3 linked regions of the Homo sapiens genome follow. The protein of the gene in region 3 purifies or fractionates together with the protein of the main gene of each other region. This does not show direct contact. Each region holds a gene or a part of one and is shown on either strand. Other genes may lie near its edges. The genes, in order: NAA30, ISOC2 and VASH1.

Region 1 (3,651 bases), about 19 Mb from region 3:
TACACTTACCAGATGACCAGCGAGGGTCAAAGGTAATACACTGCGGTGATGGAAGGCAGAAAAATTAATCTGGTTCTTCTAGAAGTAACATTGGCCTTTGGCCTCATCCCCATAAGTGGATCTTGGAGGTTAAAAACATGATAGACCTCCATGTTCCAACTTGACCACTCATGAGATGACCAATCTCATTTAGAAGTGAAATGATTTCAAATTCATCAAAAATGAGAAATTATTAGAGCCAACTATACAAATATTTTAAGGCTAAAAAGGTAAGTCTCATCAGAAACAACTTTTGGCACTTGAATCTGCATCTCTGCAACCCAAGGAACTTCCAACAATAAAATCTGAAAGGGCTGCTTTTCTCAGAAAGGCTACATAACAAGGGCAGTGGTTGGTGGGGTGGAAAGTGGTCAAACACTGTATTAATGAAATATATTGTCAGTATAAACAGTTCAGCTATACTCTTGCTCAGAGGTAATTTTTAGTTGTGTTATTTTAAAAGATTTTTCAGAAACAGTCTTGCTATGCTGTCCTGGCTGGTTGCAAACTACCATCTCAGCCTCCCAAAACGCTGGGATAATAGGCGTGAGCCACCACATCTGGCCTAATTGTGATCCTTCCATTTTATCTTTCAACCTATACAAACACTCCCTTCCTGTTATTACTGCTTATCTAAAGCTCTGCTGTCCAATACAGTAGCCACAAGCCACATGTGGCTAACTTTGATTAAAATTACAAATTCAGCTCAATCATCCCACCCACACTTCAGGGGCTCAGTAGCTACACATGTGACTAGTAACTACCATACTGGGGAGTGAAAAGGACACATCTATCCTTATATAAAGTGTGACTGGACAGTAGTGATCTAAAGTGTAGCAGTGCTATATGCTTATGAGATCTTTTAAAAAACTTTTTAAAAGTTGCTTATAAAAAGAATATCATAGGCTGGGCGTGGTGGCTCACGCCTGTAATTCCAACACTTTGGGAGGCCGAGGCGGGCAGATCACTTGAGGTCAGGAGTTTGAGACCAGCCTGGCCAACATGGTGAAACCCTGTCTCATACTAAGAATACAAGAAATTGGCTGGGCGTGGTGGCATGCACCTGTAGTCCCAGCTACTCAGGAGGCTAAGGCACAAGAATTGCTTGAACCCAGGGGGCAGAGGTTGCAGTGAGCCAAGATTGTGCCACCGCACTCCAGCCTGGGCAACAGAGTGAGACTCTGTCTCAAAAAATAAATCTAACACCTCTGGGCTACAGGTTAATACTGATCTGTGTTTACTGGTGTGAAAAAATGGTATCAACCTTCTGGTTCTTATTTAGACCTTAGAGTGAATTTATGAAGTATTTCGAGTTCCACATAAGGCCCAAATAAAACAAACTCAGATACTTTTACAGTATTACTCTAAAGAATAATGTAAAGATTTGGCATGCATGATAAAAGTAATTTAGCAGTTAAATGATTAAAACAGATCATTTCATCCTTCCACTAAAATCCGAAAATCTTGACATACAGAAGTATTCACAGCTATTTAAAGCTCCTCACAAGACAGGGGCAAAAAGCTCTTTGGATATTGCTCTATTTTACTTTGGTGTCTTACCAAGGGTGGGATGGGGTGGGGGGAACATTACAGAGTGGCAGTGTACAGACAAAAAAGTAAATTAAAATAAAAACTGTCTTAGAAATAAACTGCTATGAAACAGACTAAAAAGATAAACTTTTGACTGAACACATGGAAAATGTACCGATAACTGACATATGAGTTGACTGAGTACTTTTAGAAAAATCAAGTTCATGTTATTTTCAAATTTACTTTGTCAGAACACACAACAGTGATGACAATTATGTAATACTTCTTCCCCGTAACTCTTAGATGAAAGGCAGGAAGCGGGAAACAATATATTGTTTGTTGCTGTTTTACTTAGTAGGTAAAAGCAAAACAACCCAATCATAAAATGCACACAGCTGTATCTAAAAGAAAAATGCAAACACAACTTAACCATACTTTATTTGACTGCATCTTATTTAGACAGCTTGCACATTTCAAATCCCATTAAATCTCTCTCCAAAAGGATATGGGACAATAGAAGAAAATTATGCAGCAATATCCAGTCAAACAGCAGTCCAATATTTTGAGATACACGTGATATTTTATAGATACTCAACTCATATCTGACGTCAATATAATTTATGGTTATGTTTTTACAAACCTGAAAGCCCTGTAACATTACAGCACTCATTTTAGTGATGTCATGGTGCACTGAAAAGTAACTCTGATGTACTACCAATTTGATTTTATCTATACTCCTGAAAAGTGATGAACTTCATGATTTTTAGACACCATAATAAATATACACATCCAGTCTTAGACATGTCAGCCAGTACCATAACACAGGGCAAGGTAAAGTTAAAACATGAAAAAACAAACTGCTTTACATAGATTTGTCGAGCAAGTGGGAAGGGTAATTTGGGAAAGAGGCAGAAAATATTAAAATCGATTTTTTATTTTTTCTTATTTTGCTGGTTTCAACTTCAAAAACTACCGTCTGGTTTCTGATCTGTGGACTTTGCTAAAGTAGTTTCATCCCAATGTACAGGAAATACAGGAAATTATAATCAGCCCACACATCAAAAATGATAGTATACCCGTTAGCTTCTTCAATACTAACATATATAGCTTCATGGTAGCATGTATAAAAATGTTCAGCAGTACCAACTGCCAAACCAGTGTCAGTGGATAGTACAGTCAGTCCTAAAGAGGCAGCACCCCATTAAAAGAAAGTTGCATCTATTTTGCTCAGTTGTAGCCAAGTGAACCCATGCTACCAATTTCAGATAGAATTGTTTTAAGCTTATTTAAGAAAAACAACAGCCTATTATCAAAAAGTAAATTACTGTTTGAGGCTACTTCAACCTGAATGGAGTCTTTCAGTGTTGGTGCTGGGTTTTCATGCTAGAGGTTAAAATTTTAATCTACTTAAGTAAAAATTTTTTTGCATACCCAATTAAAGACATAAGGCATACACTGACATTCAACATATTCCAAACAATATGGCAACCATCTGACTTTTTAGTCACACAGTTAACGTCATCTTTACAAACACCCAACCAGTTCAGTCAATTTGGCAATTTTGGAGGAAAAGGTCAGTATGATGGTTTCATTGACAATCTGGCAAAAACACTAAAATGGTTGAACCAATGATCTATCTACTTTACAACCATCCCTATTAGTGATTTAAGCAAATATATGTTCATCAACCATTATGTATCAACCAGCAAGTCAAATATAAAGAAGTGAAATAAAATTTGATGACATAAATGTTTTAGTTCCATTTCCTTCATATTAAATAACAAAAGCATCACTGTGATTGGTATTCTTCTAAATGCTAGTGCCTAAATGAAGTTTGACCAAAAACATATTGAAAGGCTGAGTACTGTGTGGTTACCATATTTTTATTATAACCAGTATTGTATTCTGCTCATTAAACTTTCAAGAGCAATATAAAAAGGAAAACATTTTCTTTAAAAATAAAGAACTATAAATAATCCCACCAGCAGAAAGTTTTTATTTTCAAATATAAATTGTGTATCTTTATTTTTAAAGTATTTGTTACTATGTTCACTTTCAAAACACTATACTGAGCAAAGAGCA
Region 2 (3,230 bases), on a different chromosome or scaffold from region 3:
ACTGAGGCGGGTGGATCACGAGGTCAGGAGTTCAAGACCAGCCTGGCCAACATGGTGAAACCCCATCTCTACTAAAAATACAAAAATTAGCCAGGCATGGTGGCACAAGCCTGTAATCCCAGCTACTTGGGAGACTGAGGCAGGAGAATCCTTGAACCTGGGAGGCAGAGCTTGCAGTGAGCCAAGATCGCGCCACTACACTCCAGCCTGGGTGACAGAGCAAGACTCCATCTCAAAAAAAAAAAAAAGAAAAGAAAATAGCAGCTTCTTGTTGAGTGCCCTGCCTCCCTCAGCTTCCCAGAACACCTTCTGTCTTGCCTCCAATGAGCCTCCAGGGTCTCCCATTTCCCTGGTGAATTAATGAATAAATGAGTTAAGTACAAACAAATTGTACACACAGACGGGGAGAGAGCTGCAGACAAAAGCCCAGCCCAAACCCTCACTTGTGCAGCAAACTCGGAGACCCAAAAGCACAAGCCTCCCAGGGACGTAGGCCAAGACGTGCTGATTCAGGGCCCCTGCGGTGTAGACGCTCTGACAGCGTAGACGCTCTGACCGAGTGGAAGTCAGGTGTGCCCTGTATGGCTGCAGGACTTAGGGCAGGTTAACGGGCCCTCTGGGTCGAGGTTTCCTCCCCTGCAAAAGAATTGCTGGCCAGGTGGCTTCACCAGCCTGTCCTTTTTTTCTTTCTCTTCTTTTCTTTCTTTTCTTTTTTTTTTTTAATTGTGGTAAAATGCACTTAACATAAAACTTACCCTTTCAGCCATTTGAAAATGCAGTGGAGTGGCATTCATAGTCATGCTGTTCTGCAGCCGCCACCACCAAGTCCCAGAGCATTTTCACCATCCCAAACTGAAAACTACACCCCCCAGCAGTCAACCTGAATTCCTCCCGGCCACAGCCCCTGGCAGCCAATCATCTGCTTTCTTTCTCTTTTTTTTTTTTTTTTGAGATGGAGTTTTGCTCTTATTGTCCAGGCTGGACTGGCAGTGGTGCTATCTCTGCTCACTGCAACCTCCGCCTCCCAGGTTCAAGTGATTCTCCTGCCTCAGCCTCCCAAGTAGCTGGGACAACAGGTGCGTGCCACCGTGCCTGGCTGATTTTTGGTATTTTTAGTAGATATGGGGTTTCACCATGTTGGCCAGGCTGGTCTCAAACCCCTGGCCTCAGATGATCCGCCCGCCTCGGCCTCCCAAAGTCCTGGGATTACAGGCGTGTGCCACCAAGCCCAGTCTCTTTTTTTTTTGAGACAGAGTCTTGCTCAGTCACCCAGGCTGGAGTGCAGTGGTGTGATCTCGGCTCACTACAACCTCTGCCTCCTGGGCTTCAAGCGATTCTCCTGCCTCAGCCTCCCGAGCAGCTGGGTTACAGGCACCCGCCACTGCCTGGCTAATTTTTGTATTTTTAGTAGAGACAGGGTTTCGCCATGTTAGCCAGGCTGGTCTTGAACTGACCTCAGCTGATCCGCCCACCTCAGCCTCCCAAAGTGCTGGGATTATAGGCGTGAGCCACTGCGCCCGGCCCCATCTGCTTTCTGTCTGTGGATTTGCCTGTTCTGGGCATTTCAGGAAAACGGGATCGCACGCTCCGTGGTCTTTGTGTTGAGATCTATCCAGGTTGTGGCCTGTGCAGGGTCCCCCTTCTTTCCTATGGCTGAAGAATATGGCCTCAGTTTCCTCTTGGAGCAGGGTGAGGATCAGGGTGGACCCTTCATTCAGGAGGCCCTGGGGAGTGGGCTGGCCCAACACAGGAGGACGCCCAGCAGAGCCTCCGTTTTGGGGCTGATGGTAACCAGGGCTGACAGTAACCGGGGCTGATGTAACCGGGATCTGATAGTAACCGGGGCTGATGGTGACCAGGGCGGATGGTGACTGGGGTGGATGGTAACCAGGGCAGATGGTAACTGAGGCTGATGGTAACCGGGACTGATAGTAACTGGGGTGGATGGTAACCGGGGCGGATGGTAACCGGGATCATGAAGCACTCCTTGACGTTGTGCACAGTCCTCAGCAAGGAGAACACAGGGACCAGGAGAGGGACACCCGGAGCCACGTGTGGATGTGGCCCAGAAGGCTTCCCAAGGAAGTCACCTCCCTGCCGAATAGGACAGAAATAAGAAAGAAGCCCATTCTAGGCCCGGGGAACAGCAGACACAGAGACCTTGAGGTGGGAAGAAGGTTGGCAAGGTGCCCCGGGCCCTGCCAGGCTCTGAGTGTGAGGACCTGGACGCCAGCTGGAGACACTGAGAGGAGCCCTCGGGCCTGACCCACCGTCCCTCTGCCCACCCCCAGAAAATGGCGGCTGCCAGGCCCAGCCTGGGCCGAGTCCTCCCAGGATCCTCTGTCCTGTTCCTGTGTGACATGCAGGAGAAGTTCCGCCACAACATCGCCTACTTCCCACAGATCGTCTCAGTGGCTGCCCGCATGCTCAAGGTATGACCTCAGCCCCCCACCCTCAGACCCAGGATCCAGGCTCAGCCCTCCACCCTCAGACCCAGGATCCAGGCTCAGCCCTCCACCCTCAGACCCAGGATCCAGGCTCAGCCCTCCACCCTCAGACCCAGGATCCAGGCTCAGCCCTCCACCCTCAGATCCAGGATCCAGGCTCAGCCCTCCACCCTCAGACCCAGGATCCAGGCTCAGCCCTCCACCCTCAGACCCAGGCGTCCAGGCCCAACTCCTCTTCCTTCAGACCCAGGGATCCAGGCCCACTTCCTCTTCCCTCAGACGCAGGAGTCCAGGCCCAGCTCCTCCTCCCTCAGACTCAGGAGTCCAGGCATAGCCCCTCCTCCCTCACACCCAGGAGTCCAGACCCCCAGCCCCTCCTCCCTCAGACCCAGGAGTCCAGGCCCAGCCCCTCCTCCCTCAGACCCAGGAGTCCAGGCCCAGCCCCTCCTCCCTCAGACCCTGACCTTTCTTCCCCATCACTGGCACAGGTGGCCCGGCTGCTTGAGGTGCCAGTCATGCTGACGGAGCAGTACCCACAAGGCCTGGGCCCCACGGTGCCCGAGCTGGGGACTGAGGGCCTTCGGCCGCTGGCCAAGACCTGCTTCAGCATGGTGCCTGCCCTGCAGCAGGAGCTGGACAGTCGGCCCCAGCTGCGCTCTGTGCTGCTCTGTGGCATTGAGGCACAGGCCTGCATCTTGGTGAGATGCTGACTGACCCCAGGGGTCCCTCGTTCTAACCTGGGACCCCCATCCTAAATAGAACCTCCTTCCCTGACCAGAAACC
Region 3 (3,651 bases):
TGGCTCCTGAATGACAATTATATTTAAAGCAAGAGTCAGAGTGATGTGTAGGAGCTGAAATCAGAGGAGGAGAGCTGGTATTTCAATGGCTTGTTCTTGCTACCTGGATACAGACAAAAACCAGACTCTTGGGTGGGGGGCAAAGTTATGTTCAAAGCCATCTAATATTCACGCCCTCCCCCATGACATTCCTGGGTGGCTCACTGCCTTGCAGGGGCCCCATCCTTTCTACCTTTTCTCTCACATAACCCATGCTCAGACTAGTGGGCTAGCAGAGTTTGGTTTCTCTGGGGAAGTAGAACTGCCTTGCTGTGGGAAATGTCAATACACAAACCTCTAAACCCACCATCCCAAGTCACCTCCCTTGGGTGGGAGCGAAAAAGAGAGAAGGGTGGGAGAGAGATAAAAAAAAAAAGGGACCCACACGATGAGAGGAAAGGAAAAAAACCCTCTTTGGACCCACCCAGGCGTGGTCCCTCTCTCACCGTCTTTCACTGCGGCTGTTCCTGCGGTGGGGGCTGGACTGGGCCCGCTGCGGGGAAGAAACATCCTTCTTCCGGTCCTTGGTGGGAGAGGGAGGGCCCGTCCCTTTGCCAATCTAGGTGCAGAGGAGGAAGCAACAGCATCACTCCAGGACTGCCCTGGAGCCCAACCTCTCCTTCCAGGAGCCACAGGTCCCTGGAGGCTGCCCTGGGGAAGGCCCGGGGAACCTCAAGCATGGCTCTTCCCTGTCTGGATCTTTCCCAACCTATTTCCCAGGCACTAAAGCTGCCAGAGCAGGAGTTCCTCCATGGGGCTGTCCAATCCCTGTGGGCTCCTGAAGGCAGAGTGGAAGTGGGGGAAGTCACTGAGATACCATAATATTGCAAAAAGTCCCCAACAAAGGCCAGGTAAACGTGCCAGTTGTGGGAGCAGCCCACACTGAACTTGGGGCTGAGATCCCACTCACCCCAAGGGTGATGCTGGGTATCTCCAGCCATTGAGAAGTCAGACTGGTAGCTTTAGCTCTGCTTAAGAAAAAAATGAGAAAAACAAAAGAGTCATCCTTTATATGGCACCGTCAGCTTGACTTGAGTTTTCAAAACGCAGGAGTGCTGGAGAGGGGCAAGTAACACAGGTGAGTGTTTAGCACTGAATAGGCTGGGAATCCATCACAGCTCTAAACACTAGGGAACTGTTGGCTCTCACCCTAGATCCAATCTGATGCCTTAAAGACACAATAGCAAACTGAGGAGCAAGAGCCAGGGTGCTGGGGGACCCAGAGCTAGGTGGGGAGCGGCAGCTCAGGGGCAGAAGAGAGCAGCCCCTCTCTAACGCAGGGTTGGCTGCAGCCTGCCTCTGCCCTAGGGGAAGGCACTGTCACCCCAGGAGATCTTGGCCTAGGGCTGGCAATGGCTAGGGCAGCCGTAGCTCTTACAAACCCCTGCCAGGACACCTGCAGGCACCTGCAACACACCTGGGTTCCCCATCACCCCATCAGGAGGCTGAGCTCCAGTCTGATCTGCCTCTCACTGCCAGTGAGCAAGACTCTGGGCTTCCAACCCTGAAAATGGAGCTACCACCTACCGCCCGCTGGCCTCCCAGGGCTGTCAAGAGAAGCAGTGCACTTGGGAGTGCAGAGGTCGGTGGTTGAGGCGGAGGCTCCAGGCTGCCTGGAGGGGCAGTCACAGTGCAGCAGTGACTGAGCTATGGAGATACCCAGCAGGGGGCCCTGGCAGCCCCAGGAGAACCCAGGCAGATGTCAGAATTCTGCCTGCTGAAAGGCTCTAGGGCTCAACAGCTCAGCCCAGCTGTTTTTGGTACAACAGCCCCCAGCCCAACTCCCTATCACCTCCTGCTCAAGTGTGGGTGGGAAGAGGAAGAAGGAACACTGCCCTCATTGTCTTCCACATGGTCTGACTTCCCTTTCTTCTGACCACCTCCTAGTCCTTTAATGGTTGCTAGGGTTGGGGGGCAGAGTCAGGATATGTTACAGGAGGAGTGGGGAGGCTGCCCATCACAGCACCCGATCACACCCTCCAGACAGGCCGTGATTCTCCACCAGTGACCTTGCCATGTGCCCAACACCTACCACCATCCAAACCCAGCCCACCCACCTCCTCCCTCCGCAGCCGTCCTGGTCTGCCCACCCCAGGGGACCACCTGAACAATATCGACCACTAAGCAAGGTCCCAGCACCCCAGTCCCCTGAGAAGCTCCCCAGTCCTCTCAATCCTCACATCGCCTCTGCTGGGGCGGGGGAGGGGGCGAGGGAGGGGGCGAGGGCGTGGAAGGCGGGCAGACCTTGAGCCGCATGTCGCGGGCGTGGCGCTCCAGCTCCTTGCGGAAGTCATCGCGGCCCAGGCGCTCCACGTCCAGCACCGAGTGCTTCCACTCGATCTGCTCCACGCTGTGCGGGTCGTGTGACACGCTCTGGCCCAGCTTCACCTTCTTGAGCACGTGCCAGCAGCGGCCGTAGGCGGCCTCGAAGTCCAGCACGAGCTCGCTGAGCGTGCGGAAGGCGGGCGGCTTGTACATCAGGTCCTCGCGCCGACTCATGCCCAGCGCACCGTAGCGGCCCGCGAAGTTCACCCCCAGCACGATGTGGCGGAAGTAGTTCCCTGAGAAGTAGGTCTTGAAGCTGATGGGGAAGCGCTCCAGGGTGGGCATGCTGTTGGTGAGGTAACTGGCCAGTGCCCCGCTAAGGAAAGAGCCAGGAGAAGCACGGGGCCAGCACACCGGGAGGGACTGGGACCGGGAGCCACGGGGTCCACGCACCGCCAGCCTTGGGGTGCAGACACCAGTCCTGCTCATCTCCATACGCCTGGCGTCTCCTCCTGGTATTCCTGCCATCTAGCATTGAGCCTGGTATCCAGCTGGAGCTCAATAAAGGGAACCTCGAATAGGCACGGGGCTTCCAGGGATTTGTGGCCACCGCTCTGAAGTCCAGCAGGGCTGGTGCCACACTGCAGGGCTTTCCAGAGCCCAGTGGCCCAAGGACGGAAGAGAAGCCTTCCCTCCCCTGCCTCACTCCCTCGCCCTCCATCCCGCACCTTGGCACACACACAGGCCACAGACGCGGCTTCACTCTTCTCTTACCCTCACCCTGTCCTCTCCCCATATCCACATGCAACCCTGCCTGTGGCCCTTCAAATACAATCACGTGTACTACTGAGGCCTGGGAGGTGCCCCCAGCCAGCCCCAGGCCCACTCCCACTTCCTACACCTCTGCCCCACCTGCTCACCTCTCCAGCCCCCGGGGCCTCCCACCTGAGTTTCTCACACCGGCCTTTTCCCCTGCCTGCCAAAGTTGGCTGCTGCTCAGGACTGAAGCTGAGCCTGCGCCACCGTCCACCTCCTCCACGGCACTCTCACCATGACCAGTGTTTACTGCTTCTTTTTCCTTACTTGCTTATTTTGTCTCCTCCACTAGAATGCAAACCTCCCAAGCACAGGGCCCTTGTCTGTCATGTTCTTCAGGGCCCAGCATCAAGCCGGGCACACAACAGTTACTCAGTGAAAGTTCTCGAACAAATGGGTAGAAGGACATGAATGGATAGAAGCGTGTAGCAGACACCATGTCCAGCACTGTGCTGCGTCTCACGGCACCGGCTCGGCCCATTGTCCTAACAACTCTACACACTGCCACTATCCCCCTTTGCAGAGGAGGAC

What was found.
Region 1: the proteins of VASH1 (region 3) and NAA30 purify together in Homo sapiens (co-immunoprecipitation; one large-scale study listed by IntAct). This does not show direct contact.
Region 2: the proteins of VASH1 (region 3) and ISOC2 purify together in Homo sapiens (affinity purification with mass spectrometry; one large-scale study listed by BioGRID and IntAct). This does not show direct contact.

Annotation. Positions count from the first base shown.
Region 1 is NC_000014.9:57,411,086-57,414,736, reverse strand, and holds part of NAA30 (N-alpha-acetyltransferase 30), read right to left. Parts: 3' UTR 1-3,651. UniProt on the Homo sapiens protein: Catalytic subunit of the N-terminal acetyltransferase C (NatC) complex. Catalyzes acetylation of the N-terminal methionine residues of peptides beginning with Met-Leu-Ala and Met-Leu-Gly.
Region 2 is NC_000019.10:55,455,551-55,458,780, reverse strand, and holds part of ISOC2 (isochorismatase domain-containing protein 2), read left to right. Parts: intron 1-2,291; 5' UTR 2,292-2,294; coding exon 2,295-2,432; intron 2,433-2,935; coding exon 2,936-3,145; intron 3,146-3,230.
Region 3 is NC_000014.9:76,774,906-76,778,556, reverse strand, and holds part of VASH1 (tubulinyl-Tyr carboxypeptidase 1), read right to left. Parts: intron 2,666-3,651; coding exon 2,284-2,665; intron 599-2,283; coding exon 486-598; intron 1-485. UniProt on the Homo sapiens protein: Tyrosine carboxypeptidase that removes the C-terminal tyrosine residue of alpha-tubulin, thereby regulating microtubule dynamics and function.